Homo sapiens: one gene and its partners. The protein of the gene in region 3 purifies or fractionates together with the protein of the main gene of each other region. This does not show direct contact. Each region holds a gene or a part of one and is shown on either strand. Other genes may lie near its edges.

Evidence for each region.
Region 1: the proteins of ELAVL1 (region 3) and OCIAD1 fractionate together in Homo sapiens (co-fractionation; one large-scale study listed by BioGRID). This does not show direct contact.
Region 2: the proteins of ELAVL1 (region 3) and URM1 purify together in Homo sapiens (co-immunoprecipitation; one study listed by IntAct). This does not show direct contact.
Region 4: the proteins of ELAVL1 (region 3) and RMDN3 fractionate together in Homo sapiens (co-fractionation; one large-scale study listed by BioGRID). This does not show direct contact.
Region 5: the proteins of ELAVL1 (region 3) and PPP2R2B purify together in Homo sapiens (co-immunoprecipitation; one large-scale study listed by IntAct). This does not show direct contact.
Region 6: the proteins of ELAVL1 (region 3) and KLF2 purify together in Homo sapiens (affinity purification with western blotting, with the first as the bait; one study listed by BioGRID). This does not show direct contact.
Region 7: the proteins of ELAVL1 (region 3) and POC5 purify together in Homo sapiens (co-immunoprecipitation; one large-scale study listed by IntAct). This does not show direct contact.

Annotation. Positions count from the first base shown.
Region 1 is NC_000004.12:48,858,588-48,862,087, reverse strand, and holds the end of OCIAD1 (OCIA domain-containing protein 1), read right to left. Parts: intron 1,932-3,500; exon of another isoform or gene 1,885-1,931; intron 1,364-1,884; coding exon 1,326-1,363; 3' UTR 273-1,325; downstream 1-272. UniProt on the Homo sapiens protein: Maintains stem cell potency. Increases STAT3 phosphorylation and controls ERK phosphorylation. May act as a scaffold, increasing STAT3 recruitment onto endosomes. Involved in integrin-mediated cancer cell adhesion and colony formation in ovarian cancer.
Region 2 is NC_000009.12:128,377,874-128,381,373, reverse strand, and holds part of URM1 (ubiquitin-related modifier 1), read right to left. Parts: intron 3,380-3,500; exon of another isoform or gene 3,339-3,379; coding exon 3,268-3,338; intron 1-3,267. UniProt on the Homo sapiens protein: Acts as a sulfur carrier required for 2-thiolation of mcm(5)S(2)U at tRNA wobble positions of cytosolic tRNA(Lys), tRNA(Glu) and tRNA(Gln). Serves as sulfur donor in tRNA 2-thiolation reaction by being thiocarboxylated (-COSH) at its C-terminus by MOCS3.
Region 3 is NC_000019.10:7,999,142-8,002,641, reverse strand, and holds part of ELAVL1 (ELAV-like protein 1), read left to right. Parts: intron 1-437; exon of another isoform or gene 438-525; coding exon of another isoform or gene 526-590; intron 591-3,500. UniProt on the Homo sapiens protein: RNA-binding protein that binds to the 3'-UTR region of mRNAs and increases their stability.
Region 4 is NC_000015.10:40,748,755-40,752,254, forward strand, and holds part of RMDN3 (regulator of microtubule dynamics protein 3), read right to left. Parts: intron 3,425-3,500; coding exon 3,232-3,424; intron 2,917-3,231; exon of another isoform or gene 2,816-2,916; coding exon 2,672-2,815; intron 1-2,671.
Region 5 is NC_000005.10:146,585,258-146,588,757, forward strand, and holds part of PPP2R2B (serine/threonine-protein phosphatase 2A 55 kDa regulatory subunit B beta isoform), read right to left. Parts: 3' UTR 1-3,500. UniProt on the Homo sapiens protein: The B regulatory subunit might modulate substrate selectivity and catalytic activity, and might also direct the localization of the catalytic enzyme to a particular subcellular compartment.
Region 6 is NC_000019.10:16,323,479-16,327,625, reverse strand, and holds the start of KLF2 (Krueppel-like factor 2), read right to left. Parts: upstream 2,801-4,147; 5' UTR 2,703-2,800; coding exon 2,628-2,702; intron 2,411-2,627; coding exon 1,594-2,410; intron 771-1,593; coding exon 595-770; 3' UTR 1-594.
Region 7 is NC_000005.10:75,673,624-75,676,530, forward strand, and holds the end of POC5 (centrosomal protein POC5), read right to left. Parts: intron 956-2,907; coding exon 812-955; 3' UTR 501-811; downstream 1-500. UniProt on the Homo sapiens protein: Essential for the assembly of the distal half of centrioles, required for centriole elongation. Acts as a negative regulator of centriole elongation.

The DNA of each region.
Region 1 (3,500 bases), on a different chromosome or scaffold from region 3:
AAAATGGTGTAGTATTTACATATAACCAATGCACATCCTCCTATATACTTTAAGTCATTTATAGATTACTTGTAATGCCTAATGTAAATGCTATGTAAATAGTTATTACAATGTATTGTTTGGGAATAACAAGAGTTCAGTACAGACAACCATCCATTTCTCTCCCTCAAATATTTTCAATCTGCAGTTGATTGAATCTGCAGATACGGAACCCACAGATACGAAGGGTCACTGTACACCAATTTTTCTTTTTAACATAATATCAGTCTCTGTGATGTATACCAAATTTTTATTGTTTTAGAATTTACAAATTCTTTAAAAATGCTTTTTAAGGCATTTACCTATTTACTATATTATCAATTTATCTACATAAATCACATTCATTATATTTTTATTTTTTTAGACACAGGGTCTCACTCAGTCGCACAGGCTGGAGTTCAGTGGTGTGACCACAGCTCACTGCAACCCAGAACCACTGGGTTCAACTGATCCTCCCAACTCAGCCTCTTAAGTAACTAGGACTACAGGCACACGACACCATCGCCAGCTAATTTTTATTTTTTTGTAAAGACAGGGTCTCGCTTTGTTGCCCAGGCTGGTCTCAAACTCCTGGACTCATGCAATCCTCCCACTTCGGCCTCCCAAAGTGCTGGGATTACAGGCATGAACCACTGCCCACTGCCTCCAGCCATATTATAGATTTATAGCCATATTATAGCCATATTATAGAAATATTATAGATGACTTTATTTCCTATACCTACATGATTATAACTAGCTTAAAAATAAATCAATAAATTACAAACAATAAAACCATAAAATCAAGGAAGATGAGGGCTGTTGCATGTTCCTTTACATTTTATTTGCCATAAACATTAAGATAATACAGAAAATACTGGAGAAAAAAAGCTTTTTAATAATTTCTTGATGCAAAGCTTCACACTTAAAAATTATGCTTGCTCCCCCCATCCACCCCAATTCAACATGCAGATATCATTTATTTTCTTATATGCTGATTCTAGAGCATTGTAATCTCGACGGTTTTTTAAGAGTTATCTTTGCCCTTGCAACAATTTCACAAACTGTATACAATCATGGTATAATACCATCATTCAAATGAATCCCTAAGGTGAGTACATTTACACAATATTAACACTAAAAATCTGTGTTTTTTTAAAACACCATAGAAGTCAAACCACAAAAACCCAGGATCTTGTTTTAAATGTGTTTATGAAGACTGCTGCTGAGCTCAAAGCATGCAGGTAATCATGACCACCTAGATGAAGCTGGATGTTGAAACTCCTTCATGTCCAATGATGTAATTTTTCACTCATCCCAAGTATCTCCATACTTGTTTACTTTGACTAGGAAAAAAGCATAAATAATTGATGATTCCAAGCAATAATAAGTAAAAGACATTATTTTAAGTTTGTTGCTATGATGAAAAGTTATGTTTCTCTCTCATTTGAATAAAAGCACATGAGAGTCAAATTATAATTACAAAAAGGGGATGACCAGACTTTTGTGAACTTGGGGTTGGACAAATGCATTGTATCTAGAATTTTACATAAATAGTTAGTCCTCATAACAAACTTCTAAACACAATTCTCATTTTAATGGTGAGAAAAAAGATTAGTAACTTGCCCAAGGTACAAGCCCTAACAAGAACTGAGATTTGAGTATAGGTCTGTTTAGATCCAAAGCCTAGGTACCTTTACATCTTTACCATACTACCTAAGTGTGGCACATATTAAGCCATATACAAAAAAAAAAAAAAATAGTGGGAAATAATAAAACAAACATTTGAATTTTCGTTTTTCACAAAAAATACAGCAGTAGAAATGGTCAAGTGTTCAAGTTGTAATTAATTCAATCTTCTCTCTCAGGGCTGTAAATACTACTATAAGAAGAAAATACTACTACATTTTACAGGTACTCTATATTTTACATTTTAAAACATGCTCCGCTGTCTATTCTACTCCTTTACTTTTTTGCTTCTCTTCCACATAGCTTCTGTCTGTGAGTAATCATAACAATATAAAGCAGCAGTTATCACAGTGTGGACTCTTCAGGGAATACATGAAGTCAAAATTATTTCATTATTATACTAAGACATTATATATCCTTATGTTTCACATTTTGCCTTTTCCCCTTGCTCTCATTCCCTCATGAGTATATGTTACATGGTTTTCTAGAAGCTACAGGATGTGTGGTGACATTGCTCTGGCAGCTAATGGAATATGTGCTTGAATTTTTTAAATTTCTGGGTCTTAATTTCTAATTAGATAAATATCAACCACATAAGCTAAAGGTGAAAACTTTAAGTGACACTTTCTGACCATGTGAATCTACCCTGTACTAATTTCAACAATAATTCAGAAAATGACTGAAACTATTTCATAACAAGTCTTTTCTTTAAATTATATAAAGCACACAAAAAACCAGCTTTTCCCAAAAAAAGAAAAAATCATTTCACATTCTTGTGTCATGTAACAGAACTTGAAGACTTCAGTCAAAAATCAAAAATGTCAAAATCCAGCAAATGTTAAAGGTCTACCAAATTTCCTTTCTTAACCTCTATTACCATAGAAGCCTAAACCAAAATACTCAATTTCTGATACAGTGTAAAGTACTATGCTATGCAGACAATAATAGAAAAGATTACAAAAATGAGAAAAATATTACTTTCTGCCCTCACAGAGCTTACAATCTAAATCCTCAAATTAATTAGCAGGACAAAGTACCGACAAGTCTTTACATATTACAGAGCAATGGCCACTAGATGCAGTTTATGCTAAATGTTGTTTGATGACAAACATTCAAAAGTATGGTACATCCCTAATTCATTTCAAAGGTAGATTTTTTTTACATCAATAATATGATGCAGATATTATCTATCATTGTTATAAAAACAGAACTCCAAACGAAGCAACCGCTAATGATTAAAAATAAAATTAGCTCTAAAAAATGACCATAACAACAAATACTAAGGACTTTCATGTATTTTTGCATTCTTTGTGGCATATGACCTTCAAGAAGGTACCAAAGACCTATTATTTCCATTTTTAAAGTAGTAAATAGAAAATCTTGAAACAATGACACATACTCTGAAATTCCTTAAGAGAAAATCATAAAACCCTATACTGAAATAGCTATAAAACCCTATTCGAATGTCCTCTTCCTTTAGAGGTAAACTTGTATCAAAAAATTTACTTTGGCTAATGTATAGCTATTCCAAAAAGACTTAAAAGAAACCAGGATTTAAAAATTCATCTTTAAGAAATGCCTTAGAAGCTGGCATATAACTCTTTCAAATTCACAAATGTACAAGAAAGGTCAGGCACAGTGGCTCCCACCTATAATCCCAGCATTCTGGGAGGCCAAGGTGAAAGGACTGGTTGAGCCCAGGAGTTTGAGACCAGCCTTGGCAACATAGGGAAAAACCCACTGCACCAAAAAAAATTTTTAACAGCCAGGGATGGTGGCATACAACTGTAGTCC
Region 2 (3,500 bases), on a different chromosome or scaffold from region 3:
ATTAGTCCTATTCAAGTACCCTTTGGTTCTCCTCATGCCAGTTACTAAAAGTTGTAATGACGCAGTTATACATTCATTTGTTTACTTGTTTATTCCCTGGCTCCACTCCCATTACACTGCTAACTCTACTAGGGCAAGGACCACATCTATTTTGCTCACTAATGAATATCCAGTAACTTAGTACAGTGATGGCACAAAGAGGGCATTCAAAATAGATTTGCCAACTACATGAAAGAATAAAGTACTTTGGGGCTGGGCGCGGTGGCTCACACCTGTAATCCCAGCACTTTGGGAGGCCGAGGCGGGCGGATCACCAGGTCAGGAGATCGAGACCATCCTGGCTAACATGGTGAAACCCCGTCTCTTCTAAAAATACAAAAAATTAGCCGGGCGTGGTGGCAGGCACCTGTAGTCCCAGCTACTTGGGAGGCTGAGGCAGGAGAATGGCGTGAACCCGGGAGGCGGAGCTTGCAGTCAGCCAAGATCGCGCCACTGCATTCCAGCCTGGGCAACAGAGCGAGACTACGTCTCAAAAACAACAACAAAACAAACAAAAAAAAACATACACAAATTAGCCAGGTGTTGTGGTGCCTGCCTGTAATCCCAGCTACTTGGGAGGCTGAGGTGGGAGAATTGCTTGAACCCAGGAGGTGGGGGTTGCAGCGCGCTGAGACTGCACCACGGCACTTCAGCCTGGGAGACAGAGCGAGACTCCATCTCAAAAAAAAAAAAAAGAAAAGAAAAAAAAAAGAAAATTTGTGGGTTTTCATGTCAGACAAACTCCACAGGAAATAAATAATAACTTGTGATATTTTAATAAACTTCCAGGCAAGGTCTTTGAGACTGAATCTTTGAGAAGCTTCTTCTGAGAGCACCATGTGCCCTCCCAAGGCTGCATGGCCATCTGTCAAACTAAGAAACAGTCACCTTTAGCACCCCATGTCTTCCTCGACCAGGGACACACAATCCTGACATGAAACCCCAGCCACATATCCCCTCCCAGCTCAATGTGGGCAGTGACCTGCTCCTCAGTAAGTGTCCCCCCCCCAGCCTCCACGTGTGGCAGACAGACCCCACCCTGTGCCACTGCTCTCCAACCTGAGGGAGGGACAGAGAGGTGCGGCAGCCAGTGAATCTGAGCAATAATAATTGATTCCTGGCAGATGTGTGTCCAGTTCCAGAAGAATCCTGCCAAATCTCACTTGACCATTTTCTTTTTTTCTCCCCATACATATTCTGCTTATGTATTTTTTTTTTCTTTTGAGACAGGGTCTCACTCTGGCACCCAGGCTGAAGAACAGTGTGTGATCATAGCTCACTGTAGTCTCGATCTCCTGGGCTCAAGCAATCCTTCAGCATCAGCTTCTAAAACAGCTAGGAACACAGGTGCATGCCACTATGCCTGGCTAATTTTTTATTTTTTTGTAAAGACCAGGTTTTGCCATGTTACCCAGGCTGGTCTCAAACTCCTGGGCTCAGGTAATCCTCCTACCTCAGACTCCCAAAGTGTTAGGATTACAGGCATGAGCCACTGTGCCTGGTTTATTTTATTTTATTTTATTTTATTTTTTTTTGAGATGGAGTCTCGCTCTGTTGCCCAGGCTGGAGTGCAGTGGCATGATTCGGCTCACTGCAACCTCCGCCCCTTTAGGTTTAAGCAATTCTCGTGCCTCAGCCTCCAGAGTAGCCGGGATTACAGGCGCATGCCACCACGCCCAGCTAATTTTTTTGTATTTTTAGTAGAGACGGGGTTTCACCATCTTGGCCAGGCTAGTGTTGAACTCCTGACCTCGTGATCCACCCGCCTTGGCCTCCCAAAGTGCTGGGATTACAGGCGTGAGCCACCGTGCCCAGCCAACACCTGGCCTATTTTCTTATTTCTTTTTCTTTTTTTGAGACGGAGTCTTGCTCTTGTTGCCCAGGCTGGAGTGCAATGGTGCGATCTTGGTTCACTGCAACCTCTGCCTCTCAGGTTCAAGCAATTCTCCTGCTTCAGCCTCCCAAGTAGCTGGGATTACAGATGCCTGCCACTGCGCCAGCTAATTTTTGTACTGTTAGTAGAGACGGGGTTTCATCATGTTGATCAGGATGGTCAGGAACTCCTGACCTCGTGATCTGCCCGCCTCAGCCTCCCAAAGTGCTGGGATTAAAGGTGTGAGCCACCACGTCCGGCCTGACTTGACCATTTTCTACCGCCCACCTCCAGGAACCTCATTTCCTGTCTCTTAATATAACTGATGCCCTCTTCTCCCCAGAAGTATCTCAGTCATAGGTGGAGACTGGAATCCCATCCCTGAGCCCTTGCTAGAACCCACTGCTAAGGTTACAGTGAACACCTGCCATATCCGGTCCCCAGCCCCTAGGCTATCCTGACAGTTACCCAGCCAAAGATCTGCAAGTTCATTCTTTTTTTTTTTTTTTTTTTTGGTGACAGAATCTTGCTCTGCCACCCAGGCTGGAGTGCAGTGGCACGATCTCGGCTCACTGAAACCTCTGCCTCCCAGGTTTAAGCAATTCTCCTGCCCCAGCCTCCTGAGTAGCTGGGATTACAAGCGCGCACCGCTATGCGTGACTAATTTTTTGTATTTCTAGTAGAGATGGGATTTCGCCATGTTGGTCTAGAACTCCTGGTCTCAAGTGATCCGTCCGCCTCGGCCCCCCAAAGTGCTGGGATCACAGGTGTGAGCCTCCACACCTGGCCTGGGACTGGCTTTTGTTCATGTCTGTCTCCACAGTGATCAGCACATGGTCTGCTACACAGAAGGTGCTCAGTGTATATTTGTTCAAGAAAGATTAACAAGTTTTTTTTTTTTTTTTTTTTTTTTTTTTTTGAGATGGAGTCTTGCTTTGTCGCCCAGGCTAGAGTACAGTGGCATGATCTCGGCTCACTGCAACCTCCGCCTCCCAGGTTCCGGTTCAAGCAATTCTCCTGCCTCAGCCTCCTGAGTAGCTGGGATTACATGCACGCGCCACCATGCCCAGCTAATTTTTGTATTTTTAATAGAGACAGGATTTCACCATGTTGGCCAGGCTGGTCTCGAACTCCTGACCTTGTGATCCACCCACCTTGGCCTCCCAAAGTGCTGGGATTACAGGCATGAGCCACCCGGCCCAGCCGTGTAGACTCTTGTTTTTATTCCTCTGCCTGCTAGAGAGGCAGCTTAGCACACGGATGCAGAACACAGGCCTGAACGGGGCTGAGTGTTCCCCATGGACCAACTCCTGTTCAATGGCCCCAAGAGAGGGGTTCAGAAAGCCAATACTCACAGGGTTCCTCCTGTCCAGGCAAAGTGACTCGATGTTTCTTAATACCGTCAAACAGGAGCTCCGCACCACCTCTGCAAAGGAGGACCAGAGAAAAAGACAGCCAGGTGAGCTCCTGCAAATAGGAAGAGGTAGCGGAAACAGAAAACTGAGGATAGGGCTGGTAATGAAGGCCGAGAGAAGCAGAGACTAAGGTGCAGAAACACCTTGGGTGCAGTGACTAATTCTTTTTCTCC
Region 3 (3,500 bases):
TGTTCCCATCCCATTCAGTTTATTGAATCGAATTCAAGGCTGAATGGCGAGAGAAGCGCAGCGCCCGGCTGGCGCCCCTAGGTGGCAGTAGCGAGGCGGTGCGGCCGACCCGAGCTGTGGGTCAGGGGAAGACCAACGGAAGCCAGCCTGTGGGAGGGAAGTGAGGCTCGCTCCCTCCTCTGAACGACTCTCCCTGCTCCGCTGCTGTGTCCTGGGCCCCCGCTAGGCTCTGGAGAGTGTGCATGATGTGTGTAGGTCATCTCAGCCCACTCTGATGAGTGCTGTGAGAATTATGCCCTGGCTGATGTGGAAGCCCAGAAAAGGGACCTGGGTGGGCACAGGAGAGCCCAGAATGCTTCCTGGAGGAGAGGAGGCAGTAGCGGTGGGGAGGAGCTAACCAGGCAAAGACAATAGGGTGGGGCTTTTTAGGATACAGCCAAGCCCGGAGGTGGGAACATCGCAGTGTTCAGAGAACATCGTGTGTTCAAAGAACCACGTGGGTTCTTTAGGGACAAGAAGGCTGAGATGGGTAGTGGTGGCAGGAGTGCTCAGGTGTCCACTGGGCAGAGGGCTTGGCTGTTACCCTGCAGGTAGGCCAGGGGTGGCTACTGAGCAGTTTTAGTTCACTGCTCACCCTGGTGGAGAGGCTGGGGGGAGACAAGGAGAAACCAGTCACAGGCTGTTGCAGTACTGAGGTGGCCCCGTAATGGCTGAACCGCTTGAGGGTCAGGACTGGGACTGCTTCTATATTTTGTATGCCTGATGCTTTGCTCTGTGCCTGGCACGTGGTTGATATTTTGTCTGTGCCAGGGAAAGGAAAGATTGGCAGACTACTCAGAAGCGACTGGATCCAGGTACCTGTCAAACAGACATCTGTGGCTGGGTGTAGTGGCTCACACCTGTAACCCCAACAGCTTGGGAGGCCAAGGTGGAAGATTGCTCAAGGCCAGGAGTTCAAGACCAGCCTGGGCAACATAGCGAGATCCCATCTCTAAAAAAAAAAAAAATTTTTTTTAAGAGTGAGACGTTTATGTCAGGGGAAGGAATCACAGGAGAGGGAACAATCCTGAACAGCTCGATGGCCAGACTCATGTCACCATGAACAGAAACAGGCAGACTCAAGGAAGGGGAGTGACTAGGAGGAAGAAGATGAAGCTGGGTTTAGAGACACTGAGTTTGCAATCCCACTTAGGAGTCGGTCTAGCAGGAGGTGACAGGAATCTGAATAGGGATGGTGGCAGAGAGGTGGCAGGACGGTGAGAGATCTCACATGTCAAACTGGCAGGACATGGTGCTTGATTAGGTCCAAGGGCTAGAGAGAGGTGGCTTGGGGGACAGGTGGGGCTATGCCACCAAATGAAGTAATTCAGGGGGCGGAGGCGGTTTGAAGAGAGGGCAAGGACAGGAGGAGAGGAGATGAAGGTGTTTGTAGCTGCAGACAGGGAGGTTGGGGAGACATACATTCGCCTTGATTTTGTTCATGAAGTGGGACTAGAGACAGGTACTCACTGTACCAGGCACTGTGGAGCAAGGGGTGACATCCCCAGTGGAGGAAGCTGAAGCTCTGGGAAGGGGAGCGACTTCTGCACAGTAGTTCAGCTGATGAGCAGGAGACTTAGTGCCCAGCTCGGGCCTGCCAGGCTCCAGAGCTCAGGGTTTTTTCCTGCCATGCCCTGTTGCTTTGCACTTCTGTGTGAGATCCCTGCAGTGGCCTTTGGCCTTGACCAGCCAGAAAGAAGCCAGAGCCCTTAGCAGGGCTGTGGGGTGCCTGGACTGGGCCACAGGCCAGCCACACCTGACCTGCTCCTGCCCCGGGCTTCTCAGCCTGGCTGAAAGGGAATTGTCACTTAGCTGGAGCTGCTCCAGCCAGGCATCCTGCCCTTCTGTGGGCCATGGGCAGGGGCTTGGAAGAAGCTGGTGCCATGTCCACCTGAGACCTTGCCTTGCATGGCATTTATAACTGGGTCAGGTGGTGCTTTGGGTTTTTTCTGGCAGCAGAGCATTTCCTGAATGACCTAAGCCTTTTTTACCTGGAAGACTCAGAATGTTGCATCTGGAAAGGACCTTAAACATTATTGGGTCCAAGCCCTGTCAGATGATGTGTGAAGTGTCAAGATTGAGCCTGAAGATAGATTTGACTGTTCTAGTTTTGCTCTGGCTCAAGTGGTTTAGAATACCTGCTCCGTCATGGTGCAATGAAAGTGATTCTCATGCTTGCCTGGTGGAAAGCAGCCTCACTGCTTCACTCTTTTTCTGTCACACATAAAGACACACACATCTCTCTCCCCTGGATATGCGCTAGATGATCGACGGATGTGAACAACATCACTGATGTCACATAGACAACCAGGATTGTTTAAAATAGTGCATTGGAGTCAAAAACCTTCAGAGATCATCCAAACAAGACTTCTCCCAGAGGCCAGGCACCGACGGTGACTCTCACCTCTAAGCCCAGTGCTTGGGAGGCTGAGGTAGGAGGATCACTTGACGTCAGGAGTTAAAGACCAGCCTGAACAACATGGCGAGACACCCCCCCGCCCCCGCCTCTACAAAACATAAAAAAGCGGCCAAGCGTGGTGGCTCATGCTTGTAATCCCAGCACTTTGGGAGGCCAAGGCGGGTGGATCACCTGAGGTCAGGAGTGCCAGAGCAGCCTGGCCAACGTAGTGAAACCCTGTCTCTACTAAAAATACAAAAATTAGCCGGGCGTGGTGGCAGGTGCCTGTAATCTCAGCTACTCGGGAGGCTGAAGCCGGAGAATCACTTGAACCTAGGAGGCGGAGGTTGCAGTGAGCCAAGATCGCACCACTGCACTCCAGCCTGGGTGACAAAGCAAGACCCCCCTCTCTGCAAAACATAAAAAAGCTTAGACAGAACTACATAGAGGACTTAGTAGGACTACGTAGTGACACGCACCTGCAGTCCTAGGTACTTGGGAGGCTTAGGTGGGAGGATCACCTGAGCCTAGGAGGCCGGGGCTGCAGTGAGCCGTGATCATGCCTCTGCACTCCAGCCTGGTCTGAGAGCCAGCAGCCTCCTGTACTGCTGTGTGACACACCCTGGCTTTGCCTGGGGACTCTTAGATGGCAATGGTATAACCTGGGCCCTCAAGGTTCTCACCACTGACATTGGTCATTGAGTGTAAGGCAAATAATGATAGGAGTGGTTGGGACAGTAACAAAGGTTTACAGCAATGGCATGGAGGCACTGAGAACTAGAGTAAGTAACCTGTTGTCCTGGGGGAAGGTGGCCTTTTATTTTTTATTTTTTTGAGACAGTCTCACTCTGTTGCCCAGGCTGGAGTGCAGTGGCGTGATTTTGACTCACTGCAACCTCTGCCTCCCGCGTTCAAGTGAGTCTGCTGTCTCAGCCTCCTGAGTAGCTGGTACTACAGGCATGCACCATCACGCCCAGCTAATTTTTGTATTTTCAGTATAGACAGGGTTTCACTATGTTGGCCATGCTGGTCTCAAACTCCTGACCTCAGGTGATCCGCCTAC
Region 4 (3,500 bases), on a different chromosome or scaffold from region 3:
ACGCCCAGCTAATTTTTCTATTTTTAGTAGAGACAGGGTTTCACCATGTTGGCCGGGCTGGTCTCGAACTCCTGACCTCAAGTGATCTGCCCACCTCAGCCTCCCAAAGTGCTGGGATTATAGGCATGAGCCTCCACACCCCAGCCTCAGTAATTTTTTTTTTTTTTGAGACAGAGTACTGCTCTATCACCGAGGCTGGAGTGCAGTGGTGCCATCTTGGCACACTACAGCCTCCACCTCCTGGGTTCAAGTGATTCTTCTGCCTCCGCCTCCTAGGTAGCTGGGATTACCGGTGCCTGCCAACATGCCTGGCTAATTTTTGTATTTTTAGTAGAGACGAGGTTTCACCATGTTGGCCATCTGGTCTTGAACTCCTGATCTCAGGTGATCTACCTGCCTTGGCCTCCCAACGTGCTGGGATTACAGGCCTGAGCCACCGCGCCTGGCCTAGTACAACTTCTTTAAATCATCACAAAGAGGACCAGGTGCGGTGGTTCATACCTGTAATCTCAGCACTTGGAGGCTGATGTGGGAGAACTGCTTGAGGCCAAGAGTTCAAGAACAGGCTGGGCAACACAGTGAGACCCCATCTGTACAAAAAAAATAAATAGAATTGGCTGGGCATGGTGGCACATGCCTGTAGTCCCAGCTATTCAGAAGGCTGAGGCAGGAGCACCACTTGAGCCCAAGAGGTTGAGGCTGCTGTGCTGTGATGGCACCATGGAACTCCAGCCTGGGCAACAGAGTGAGACCCTGTCTCAAAACAAAACAAAACAAAAACAAAAACAGTTGTGAAGGGCCTCAAGCTTTCTTTGATTTTGGGCAGAGCTGTGACCTCTCCTTCTGTTCAACCTCCTTACAGAGTTCAAACATCAATTCCCCACCCAAGTGGCCTGCTTCCTTGGGTTGCAGAGATGTTCTTTACATCTCAGTGCCCACTATCAACTACTTCCTCGGTCTCTCTCTTCAATTCAGATGTATCAAATATTAATTTCATTTTTGCCCCCTCTTTAACACAACTTCTGGAAGCATCTCTTGGCCCAGAGCCATTTAGGTAAATTGAATAGAAAAGGGCCACCTCTGTTTGCCCTTGAGAATGCAGATAACAGGGATCTGACAACCCAGGCAACAGCAGTCCCCCATGGAAGAGCAGAGAGCTCTTCACCACCACTCCACAGGTTTCTGGAGACCCCGGAGCACTCATCAAATCCAGCGTTGGTGATAATGACATTTCAGTCAACCACGGACTGCGCATATCAGTGGGTGCATACGATTATAATGGAGCTGAAAAATTCCTATCACCTAGTATTTACATTGTATTTTATTTTTCTGAGGCAGGGTCTCACTCTGTCACCCAGGCTGGAGTGCAGTGGCACAATTATGGCTCACTGCATCCTCAAACTCCCGGCCTCCCAAGTAGCTGGGACTACCGACCCATGCCACCATGCCCAGCTCGTTTTTTTTTTTTTTTTTTTTTTTCTTTGAGATGGAGTCTCACTCTGTCTCACAGGCTGGAGTGCAGTGGCGCAATCTCGGCTCACTGAAACCTCTGCCTCCTGGGTTCCAGCAATTCTCCTGCCTCAGCCTCCCGATTAGCTGGGATTACAGGCATGCACCACCACACCTGGCTAATTTTTGTATTTTTAGTAGAGACAGGGTTTCGACATGTTGGCCAGACTGGTCTCAAACTCCTGAACTCAGGTGATCCGCCCACCTTGGCCTCCCCCAGGTAGTTATTTTATGTAGAGACGTGGTCTTGCTGCCTTGTCCAGGATGGTCTCAAGCTCCTGAACTCAAGCAATCCTCCTGTCTCGGCCTCCCAAAGTGCTGGGATTACCCATGAGCCACCACCACACCTGGACTGATTTTAACTTCTAGTTTCCATGTACCTGCTTATAGCTAATTCCTCTGATCCAGCATAAAACTTGGCTGTTCTCTACACCAGTCTTTCCCTTAAGAAGAATAAAGGCTGGACAAGGAGAAATCGGCCTCTAGGCCTCACACAGGCTACCTGAATAACTGGAGCTAGCAGCAGATAAGGTCAGATGGGTCAGATGCTGCTACTGACATCACACTCTATCCTTGGGACCAGAGTTTCAAAGTGGTGCTAGTGGTTTAAACTCAAAACACCCTTAGCATGACCAGACTTGGAGGAGGCTGTCCACCAGACTCCTGCCAGCTGCCCCGCCTCACAGAAAGGCCTATCGTCAGCCCTCCTGGGCCACTGAGAACTCAGGACATCCACCTCCCACCTGTAAAAATGCAAAGGATCACAGGCAAGGCTCCCCTGTGGGAAGAGGGTGACTCCCAGGGAGGAGCATGCTTCGTGCTTAGACATCTCCGTATACCAGCTCAGCCACCCAAGGAAAGGAACAAAGTCAAACAATGCTTATCAAGTCCTTGTGATAACACAGAAAAATGCCCAAATAATATATCATAACTATGTAATAAACTAAGATAACAGATGCAAGCAATAACTGCTATTAACATCTACATTTGTCTGAATGACATAAATTGGATGGGTTTTTTGTTTCAACTCTTCTGTATTTATTATACTCTTACCTGTTCCAAAAATCATTTGCAGCAGCTTGGTTTGAATTTTCCATTGATAATACTTTTACAAAACACAACCTGGCTGTAGCCATAACTGCCTCCAAGAGAGACAACTCACCCCCCTTCACTCTCAGCATCTGTGAACGTGGCTCCCGAGGAGGCCGTGAAGTAGACAGAGCTGGAGCCAGTGGAGTCACTCCTCTCCCGGACAAACGGAAACCTTCGCCGCCGAGCCACTCTCTGGTTCTCTTCCATGTGGCATCTGGAAAGCAGGCCCCATCCCGAAGGGTACCATTAGGTCCCATCCAGCTTGTCTTTCTGCTCACCATGGGGTGCCTCTTACTACTGCTCCTCATTAAAGGGCTAAAAGCAGAGAAAATCCTAAGTCTCTAACCCTCAGGAGGGCAAGCAGGGCAGCTTCCTGGGCCCAGCCCGCACAGACAGACTAGGTTAGGCAAACAGAGCGCTTCAGCTGCTACAACAGATCAACCATGAGAGTCCAGAAGCAGCAAGGAGCATGTGCAAGGCGAGGTACCAAATGTACAGCTTCAACCCAGATTAGGCTAGAAGCTATAGAACTGGTTTATTCTTTAGAGACAGACAGCGAAGGCCAGAACACACCCCAGCTGAAAAGCTGCAGGGGAGGGATAAAGCAGGAGAAGAAGCCGCATTACTCACCGGACCTCCCCAACAATCTCCCCCGCAAGCCCTCGCAGGCTGCTTCTCAGCTCCTCCACCTCCCGCCGCAGCGCCACAAGGCTGGTCAGCACAAAGTCCAGGCGGTCCAGCACCTTCTCCTGTCCTTCCCGTGGAAGGCTGGGCAGCACTGAGGCATCTCCAGCCCCACCTGGGACAGCCCGCAGGAGCATCACTGAAGGGGGAAACGAATGGGAGCCAGTGACACACAGGAATATGGTGGGGAAGAGATCTCACACCCAGAATTCAAG
Region 5 (3,500 bases), on a different chromosome or scaffold from region 3:
ATACACACACACACACACACACACACACACACACACACACACACATAATGTATGATGGGGATAGTGGATAAGAACTTTAACTAAAACTGCCTGGCTTTGTCACTTGTGAACTGTGTAAATTTGGTTGTCATTCATCTGTTTCTGTATCTATAAAATGAGAACAACAATAGTATCTGCATCTGGAGTTTTAGGGGTAAATAAGTCAATACATGTGAAATTTGTAGAACAAAGCCTGGCTTATAATAAGTGCTCAATAAATGTTAGCAACTATTGTATGTTAGAGCTGTATTTTAACAGCTCTGGCTTTAGAGTCAGATACCTTGAGTTGGAGTCCTGGTTCCATCTCTCTCGGGCTTTGTGCCCTTGGCTAGGTTGACAACTTGAGTCTATTTTCTCATTTGCAAAATGGAAATACTAATGCCACCATGGGGTCTGGGAGAGGAGATAATGAGATGAGGCATGGAAAGCAATAGTATATTACCCATCACTGTTGTTGCTATTATTAGTTTATGGTGCTTTAAACCTATCAAAATAGTTGTAAGTAAATGGATTTCTTGTTCTCCCAATAACAATTCTCTGAGCTAGGATAGATGTCTTTCTGGCCATTTTACAGGTGATGACACTGACATAGGGACTGAGTGGGTAGCTTAAGTTCCATGGTTACCAGGAGCAGGACCCACGTTTCCTGTCTCCCAGTCTCATCCTTTTTCCACTGACCAGGTTGGTTGCTCCCTTGGAAAGCAGTCCCTGAGAGTTGACTTAGAAGTTCAGGGGGAAGAGGTGGATGAAGGCATGTTGGATGCACAGTGAATCAGGTTGCAGTGTGAATGTTTCTCAGTGGTGTGTCTAGACTTCCCCCATCCAAAGACTAACCAGGCCTGACTCCATTTCACTTCCAAGATCAGATGAGATCGGGTGCATTCAGGGTGGTATGTCCAAAGACTGTGTCAGGGGATTTGTTTTGGAAGTGGGGTGGCATTATTAAAAACACACCGGCTTCATCCACACATTCATCACGGAAGAGGGAAAATTAGTAAGGGTTCCACCATTCAGGCTGTGGACTATAGTGTCATCCCTAAATCCTCATTATGAGGCCTACCAGGGCTTTCTTGAGCCCTGCAGGCAGCTAGCAAAGGGACTGAAAAAGAAATGAGGCCTGGGGTTGTCTGGGGAGGGAAGCTTTAGGCAGTTGCTCTGTAGGCTTGAAGGGAGGGAAATTATGGCTTTTCAAGTCCTTAGAAATTGGGCATTTGAGTGTGTACCTTTTATTATAATGGACCCTAGAATATTCAAAGGAAGTTTAGTGGAGATAGCTGACTTATTTCATTGGGCCACTGAGCTAGCAGAATTTTAGCTTCATCTTTATTCCACCTTGCAATTGTTCCATCTTATATATGCTGGTTGCCTAATAGAAGTTGATTTGGTTGAATTAATTACAAGATCAATGAGAGGTTTAAAGGTGCTTTTTTTTCAATGGAAGAGTAAAGGCAGGAGCCAAACTTGAAGGAGTTAAGAAGCAACTTGATTCCCACTGCCCATCTGCCTTTATATATCCCACTTCTTGATGCTGGCTAGTATCTTCCTTTTTTGTTTTTTCTAACTAATCTTCCTCCTCCTGACAGAAGAGTACGAATGTCTACCAAAGTTCAGCTTTTTGCATTACTTGTTTTTAACGTCAGGAACTGAATGTTGCGCAAGGATGGTTTTTGTAAAAGCCAGGGATGGCGTGGCTTCCATTTTCCTTCATTCAACTGACACCCTCCAGTTGTAATCTGATGGCTCTTACCAAGCAGCAGGCCTTGTGGGGTAAAGTAGTATAGGGCCCTTAGAATCGAACCAACTGTTGCAAGGTAGCAAATCAGCCTTCAAGTAGTTTTTAGTGTCAGCAGGAAAACAGACTGACTTCTATGTGCCACTAACTAAGAAATATTGCCAGTACTGGGGCTGAAAGATCACACATGTAAAATACCTAGTTCAGTACCTGGTAAAGAACAGTTAATTTGTGAAACATCGTGGTGGTTATTGCTCCCTGAGGCCTAATCTCTAGGGCTTTCCCCTCCTGTTCCCGTCCAGGAGTCTTGGGTGTTTGCTCTAATGCATCCTTTGCAGGGGATGGAGGAGAGGATGGCTGCCCTCTGCTCTTTCTTCTCTGGCAAACTCATCCTACTCTGGATCCCAGTTTGTACATCTATATGCTAAGGGTGTTGGACTAGTGTAGGGGCTTTTATTTGGAGTTCGCAGATAAACTGCAAAGGGGCCTATGAACTCCTTAAACCATGACAAAAATTATTCCTGTGTGTGTTATGGGCAGCCCTGCTGACTCTAATATGTGAAGAACCACCATCTTTGATGCCCCTAAGGGCATAAATCTTCTGTCATATCAGTTACTCAGGGTCCCAAAGTTTGATACACATGCTCCTGGTGGTTCACAAAATGATTTCAGGTGGTATGTGGGTGCATGTTTGTTACATTGATAATTATGTGATTAATGTTAGGGAAAAACCTAGCATATCAGAGTTGAAATTTCATGCATATTATTTCTTTGGAGGAGGCTAAGTCTTGCTTTTAAGAAAAGGTGACTTAAAAAAATGTTACATGAGTAATAGTACAAATGTGAGTTGATTCTTAAGTTTGAGATACAATGATTGGTCCCAACCCCCGACGTGGTACAGACAGAGGAGCTGAGTCCGGAGAAGTGGAGAAAAGGCCATAAAGGAAGTCGGTGGTAAATGTAGGCCAATAACCCAGTGGCCTTCTGCAAAATCATCACTCTCTATGACTGGCAGAAGTTTCTGACTCTCTCATGTCTCCTCCAAGAACACTGTCCCAGTCAGGACAGAAATCTTGCCCAGAGAGTTTACACCTTAGCCACTTTACTTGAGATGCCTAAGGCGAGGCTTTCCTTGCAGGAAAAATGAGAAATACTGAGAAAGTCTCGTCTTTGTTCCCATGCTCCCTCAATTCTGAGACGTACTTTTTTACATTTTAATGTTCCTGAAATTGGGCTGCATCTAACAAGACTGTTTTTACCTAAGGTGACAGTTATTTCCTTGCCAAAAAGCTATTAGTAAATGGATAGTAGCTTAGAATTGAGATAAAATGATTCTTTCACTATTTTTTCCTCCTCCAAAGCAAATTACACTTGAAAGTCAGGACTTCTAATACATCTGTAAACTGAAAGAAAATTTCCCTTTCATTGAAAAACTCTCATCTCAAACCATTTACCCTGCACTAAATGGGAGTTAGGAGAAATGAGTCATCAAGACAGATGTAGAGATATTAACCCAGAACCAGTTTTCTGGACTCCACCCATCTACTTTCCTAAGTTTATAAATCCTTTGCATGCATTTAGTGCCTTTCCTAGGGGTGTGCCACATAGAACCTTCTGGAAATGGCTTTCTAGAAGTTATAAATCTGGATCCTCAACTGGGGAAAAGGATGAACCATCTTCCACAGCTTCAAGTGGACTTCATTCACTTCATGTCACAGCTGCTTGATTT
Region 6 (4,147 bases), 8.3 Mb from region 3:
TAGTGGGGCTGCCCTCCATCAAACTCTCCGCTCCCCCCTCCTCCCAAGTGCCCCAAGGCCCCAGTTCCAAGCAACCAGACCAGTGCTGTGATTTTTTTTAAAAGATGCAAAACTTTTTAATTAAAAAAAAAACCAACCCAGCAAAATCTTATAAAAACGAACCAGGTAGCCCAAAAATGCCCACCTGTCTCTCTATGTACAGTAATACAATATTTGTCAGTCACTATATACAATATTATAAAAAATGCCGCAGACAGTACAAATTAAGGCCCTTATTTCTCACAAGGCATCACAAGCCTCGATCCTCTAGTGTAGACCCGGTGGGAGAGAAGATGCCACTTAAATTATTGCACCATTTTGAAAAACAAAACTCGTCAAGGAGGATCGTGGTCTTTTCCCACCGGGCCTTCAGTCACAGACGGGGGCTGGGGTGGTGGCGTCGTCGTCGTCGTCATCGAGGGAGACCCTCTGTAGCCACGCTGTGCCCGGCCCGGTTCTCTGGGTCCAATAAATACCAGTCACAGTTTGGGAGGGGGCCGCGCCCGGCGCGTGGGACCCGCCACGGCCGCGCGCAGGTGGGCGGGGGCGTCCCGGCTACATGTGCCGTTTCATGTGCAGCGCCAGGTGATCGGAGCGCGAGAAGGCACGATCGCACAGATGGCACTGGAATGGCCGGTGGCCCGTGTGCTTTCGGTAGTGGCGCGTGAGCTCGTCTGAGCGCGCAAACTTCCAGCCGCAGCCGTCCCAGTTGCAGTGGTAGGGCTTCTCACCTGCAGGGAGGGGGCGAGAGTAAGCGTCAGTTCCCCTCCCAGGACAGGGCACGTATGGCTACCCCGGCGAGCGCAACCTATCCCTAACCAGGGCCTTGACGCGCTCCCCGCGGTAGTGTTGCGCCCCTGAGGGATCCTTGCCCTACATCCCCAACTCCCCCCACAATCCGGATCCTCACCCCCAGGGGGTCGGAGGAGCGCAAGGTCCACTCCCCACTGTTGTCAGCCACGCTCCCCGACGGGTCCTAAGCATGCACCCTCTCTCCAGCATTCTAAGACACGGAATCTCTCAAGGTTTCCCAGCGAACACTCCCTCCCCAAGGTCCTGAGCCTTGTCCCCAGAGGAGTCCCAAGCCTGAGCGCCCTCCCCAACTTCCTGAGACGCAGCATCTCCCCGGGGTTCCTAAACGCGCACCTACTCCCCAACTACCTGAGCCTCAGCCCCGGGGATTCTGAGCCAAGTGCCCAGCGGCTCCTAAACCTGCTCCCCCTCCCCAACTTTCTGAGACTGTCTCCCTAGCCACGCCTCCAGGAGGTTTTCTAAGTGCTCTTCCCAACCTCCGGAGGCCCCCCTCGTCCTAAGCGTGCAAGCCCCCACCCCAACCTCTCGGATCACACTTCCTTAGGGAGTGTTCCTGTGTGCCCCCCCAACCAACCTCCCGAGCCACGCCTCCTGGGGAGTCCTAAGCGTGCACCACCTGCCAGATCCCCCTGAGCCACGCCCCAAGGGAGGTCCTAAATTCATTTTCTGGCGCGCGCTGGGAATCCGACCTCTCCTCCCGCGTCCCCCCGCCTGCGCTCCTGGCTCGTGCGTGCCGCCCACCTGTGTGCGTGCGCAGATGCGCCTTCAGATGCGAACTCTTGGTGTAGGTCTTGCCGCAGCCCGCGTAGCTGCAGGTGTGAGTGGCGGTGCGTTTGCGGGGCCAAGAGCGGCGGCCGCGCTTTGGCTTGGCCTCCAGCAGCTCCAGCGGGGACGCAGGCGGCGTGAGGAGACCGCGGGCGGCGGGGGGCGCCAGGCCCAGGGCTGCCGCGGCGGCGGCCGCGTCGTCGAAGAGACCGAAGGCTGGGGGCGCAGGCGGCGCGTAATGCAGGCCGGGCCCGGGCGCGCCGAAACCAGGGCCACCGAAAGGCGGCGGGAAGGAGGCGCGCGGACCGGGCGCGGGCAGGCGCGCGGGGCCGTCGGGGCTGAGCGGCGGTGTGTCGGGCGGCGGCGGGGGGCGGCCCCCGGGACCTCGCATGCACGAAGCCGCCGGGCCCGGGGCGCCCTCGCGCTTGAGGCCGCGCGGTCCACGGGTCAGCCCGGGGGCGCAGCCGTAGCCGCCGCCGCCGTCCGCTTCAGGGGGCTCGGCCTTGACCAGGCGGCCGGGCGGCGCCAGCAGAAAGCGGCCGTGCAGTGCGGGCCCCAGCGGCGCATCCAGCTCGGGTCGCAGCAGCTCAGACACCAGGCCACCCGCGGGGGCGCTGTAGGGCGGGGGCGCGCCGGGTTCGGGGTAATAGAACGCAGGCGGCGGGGGCGGCGGCGGCGGCTCCGGGGCGGCCTCGGCGCCCAGGCCATCCAGCCCCATGGACAGGATGAAGTCCAGCACGCTGTTGAGGTCGTCGTCGGTGCCGCCGGACTCGGGTTCGGCGCGCGGCCAGCGCTGCGGGCGACAGGGCAATGGGCGTGAGCGGGCGGCGGGGCTCGGGGGGCGCTGCTTGCCTTTTACCACCCTAAGTCCGCGATCCCCGTGGCCCGCATCCTCCTCTCCTGAGTCTGCAGTCCCCGCCTTCGCGTCCTGTCACCCCGCAGCCCACGTTCTACTACCCCGAGCCCGCCGCCCACGGTCCCGGCCGCCCCGCCGTCCCCGCCGCCCTCACCTCCTGCAGGCCGCGCTCGCGGCACGGGCTGGCGAAAGTGGAGAAGGACGGCAGGATGGGTTCACTCAGCGCCATGGCCGGGACCCGGGGAGAAAGGACGCGGACGGGGACACCGGTGAGTGGCTGCCCGAGGCCGGGCTGGTCGGGGCGCGGGCGGGCGGGGACGGCTCTGTGGGCCGCGGCCGGGCCCGCCCAAGCCTTATAGGCGCGGCGCGCGCGGGGGCCGGGCCAAAGCGGCGGCGGCGGAAACGCGTCCCGGATGGGGACGAGCTCCGGGCGCAGCCTAAATTTAGCCGCGGTATATAAGCCGGCGGGCGGCAGCGGCCGTGGCCACTGCGGCGGCCTGGGCCTTGCGCTGACAGCCCGGCCCCTCGCGCGCCGCCAGGGCCGCGCCTCCCCCTCTCCCGGGCCCCGCCCCCGCCCGTCTCCCCGGCGACGTTGTCAACACGCGCTCCACAACAGCGGCGTGACGCTCAGGGATCCCCCGGGCGCCCCGGGCTCCCGCCTGCGCGAGCATCCCGGGGACCTGGAGCGGGGGCGGTGTCGGGGCCTCTCAGAGACTCTCAGGGGAGCACCGGGCTTGGCGGTCTCCCCGGATCCCTTGACGGAAGGGGAGATTGGCTCCAGCCTCAGAGAGGGCTGCAGAACCCTGGATGGATGGGAAGTCTGGAGTCTCCAGGATTCATGGATGGGTGAGGCTGGGCCCCTCATCTGTTGTGGGACCACCCAGAGGGACCCACCGTGTGCACATCACCCTGTAAAAAAAAACACCTTGTGTAGACCTGGTGCAGTGGGTCACATCTGTAATCCCACCGCTTTGGGAGGCTGAGACAGGAGGATCACTCGAGGCCAGGAGTTCAAGACCAGCCTGGGCAACACAGTGGCCCCCATCTCTTAAAAAATAAAAAAAATTAGCTGGGTGTAGTGGGAGGCTGAGGTGGGAGGATCGCTTGAGCCCAGGAGGTCGAGGCTGCAGTGAGATACAATCACACCACTACACTCCAGCCTGGGTGACAGAGGAGACTGTCTCAAAAAAACAAACAAAACAAAACTTTTGTGTGGTAACATCAAGACACATTAAATCTTTGACATTTGAGACACCCACCCCCTCCTCCCCAACCTCAATAAGCCCGTCAAGTGCAGGGAAACTGAGGCAGAGGTGGCTGGGAGAAGTTGGAGTTGCGGCAGGCACAGGCAGGCTGGGTTCCTTTACTGACTTCCATAAATGAATTAAGTAACTCAGAGGACGGTGATGACAGTCATTCCCCCAATACAGCTCCAGCATCGGGGGCATCAGAGGACAATGCTGCCCAATGGGTCCCTTCAATGCTCCACCTCTGTCCCCCACACCATATCCCTGCTGGCCAGGGACTGTCACTCCTGTTACAACTGTCTGCCAGCCCTGGGTAGGCACTGGGGACACAGTAACCAAGAGATAGACAAGATCCCTGCCCTAGGGGACCTCCACTTTAGTGAAGGAGGGAAGGATAGAGGTTTATTCATTTGAGTTTTTTTGAGAC
Region 7 (2,907 bases), on a different chromosome or scaffold from region 3:
AGAGTCCTGGAAAAATGAAGACTAACATGTTAAAGCCACAAAAAACGGGGCCGCGCGTGGTGGCTCATGCCTGTAATCCCAGCACTTTGGGAGGCTCAGGCGGGCGGATCACTTGAGGTCAGGAATTCGGGACCAGCCTGGCCAACATGATGAAACCTTGTCTCTACTAAAAAAAGATACAAAAATTAGCCGGGCATGGTGGCTGGCACTTGTAATCCCAGATACTCGGGAGGCTGGGGCAGGAGAATTGCTTGAACATGGGAGGAGGAGGCAGTGAGCCGAGGTCACACCATTGCATTCCAACCTGGGTGACAGAGCGAGACTCTGTCTCAAAAAAAAAAAAAAAAAAAATCATTATTACACTTGGTCTTTTTTAAATTAAAAATAAAAATATCCTAGTTTCCACTAGTTCTAATACTTTGTTTTTAGTAAGGTTCCCTCTCAACACTTTGAGTGAATTACAGCTGTGTAATATTGGAAATGATTTAGTGTTTTATAAATAGTGAAAATAAATTTATATATTTTGATGCTGTAATCAGCAACAGGCTAAACATATTAAAGAAATAAAGTCCAGTTTCTTTTTTAATTTAAAAAAGTTTTACTTAATTGCTTAAATAAAAAATAACATTAAAATAATTTCTACATATAGTTACAAAGCATGGTAGAGCTTGAAAAAGCCTCTTGTAATTTTGAACAGATGAACATGATGTCTCCATGATGTTCTAACAATATGGAAAAGTTAAAACCAAAAGACTTCTAACCCTTGGTAAGACCAGAGGGATTAAAAGACCCCACTATGGACATATTCACTTTAGTCAACCACTTTTATGGAATGAACACTTGTGAGAGACTGGGTGTGAGCTGATCTGGTTCCAAGTGATCTGGAAGCTGAGGTACTACTTTCAGGATGAATGGTCCGGGGATATTTTGCTGCAGTTGCTTGAGGAATGGTTTGCTGAAAAGACAAAATTCTGCTTTAATAATATCCCAAGATTATGTATACTATGTATCATTTCATCATCTATCATCTATAATTTAACCCAATAAACATTTGTTAAGATCCAGTAGAAAGAAGCAATGAGTGGAGTGAAGCAGCTGTTAATTAGATGAGGCCTTTGTCTGTAAGGAACCCCTACCCAGTCTGACTGACATGTTCAACACCCACAGTGTAATATCAGAGCTATATCCACAAGGCTCATTAAGAAAGCCACGGCAGCCATTCCTCCAACAGGGCCAAGTGGAATCTTGTAATGTGTACAGAGGCTTTGTATACAGAGAGAAACTCTGTGGTGTCTGGAAGAGGGGTCAGCCCTGAGTCCTCCCCTCATTCCATCCAACTTCCTTCTCTCTACTTGACTGTTAGTATGTGGATGTGATTATCTCACAATCCCAGGGGCACACGGAAGCCCTCAGGATGCAGTCTGGTCCTTGCTTTAAACCAGAGCCCTCATATTTAACCTGGTTCACCTGGGAGCAGACTAAAACTTTTATGCACATCACCTCAGAGCTCAAAGGAACACCTCAGACATGAGCACTGAGTCATTAAAGTCAGGACACACGTGACTTACTTGACACACATAATATGCATGTAATGCATGTAAGTACACACTATGTATACAAGTACACATTTACATGTAAACATGAACAATATGTATCAGTACAAGGCTTTTCCCTATTAAACCCGATAAAGCTTCTTAGTAGCCAGCAGTGGGATTTGTTATCAAGTTCTCAGTCCATATCACTGACTAGGACATGTCAATTTCTATTAGGGTCTTCCACTTAGAAAAGTCATTGTTAAAATAGTTTAAGTAAAATTACATGTATTTGGTCAAAACATTCACTATGTATTTAAAAAACTCCAAGCTGTAGTTTTTGCTTAAAAAAAGAATGAAACTTCTTAAAAACAAAAGATCCTGTCAGATTCCATTTTAAAAAGAACAGAACTCCTTTTTAAAGAAAAATAACTTCTTTTCTTAAAGTATCTTATAAAAACGTTTATTTGTACATAAACAACTGGATAACCATTATAAATAGGAGATACTCTTGCAACAGATAAGAAATTTTAGTTGCCAGTCACCTAATTAGTTGCCAGCCACTAACCTGAGCCTGCCAAAAAGGCTTTCTCCTTGAGGAGGATGGGCAAGAGGAACTGTAGAAATAAAGTAGCCACTGAAATTATGATACACAAAATATGACAGAGAATGAAGTGGCCCTAGAAGCATGCAGTTACCCAGCAGATGAGGCTACAGTGTCACAAATCGCATCCTTGGTTTTTTAGTAATAACTATTTCTGGTAGATTTAGATCTTGATTCCCAGGGTGAAAAGAAATACAGTACAAATGACTGCCACTGTGTCTGTCACATAATCCAGGCAGCTGATGGCTATCTGGTTCATACACAGTTAGTGGGTAAGAAATGCACATACTGAATAAAGGGAGGGCAGCATGGGAGATAAGTATCAGAAACAAGGGTTCTAAATGTTTAGTACTTTGATTTTTCTTCTGTAAAATATGAATTCCCATCATTACTACAAAACAAAAGCTTGTCTAATAAAAAATAAACACACATGTGCTCTCTTTACACCTTCTTTACCTCACAAATGGACAGTCTCTCACCATCTCTATACATTTTCTACATCTGAAAAAACAGAAGTGGGTTTATTTCTTCTCATTTTTGATAACTTGTCTTCCATATTCAAAAATATATAGAAAAGTCTTCTACGAACTTTCAGAGTCTGTCCAACTTATGAAACATGAAACCTAAGATAATTCTAAAATAAATCCTCTGTCATCTCCATGTCTCTATCTGGACTTGGTGCTTCTATCTCCAGCCTTCCACCTCGCTAAGGTCCCACTTCACCTGAAGTTCAGTTCAAATCAATCCAGCTTGTCTTCATTTAATCATCTA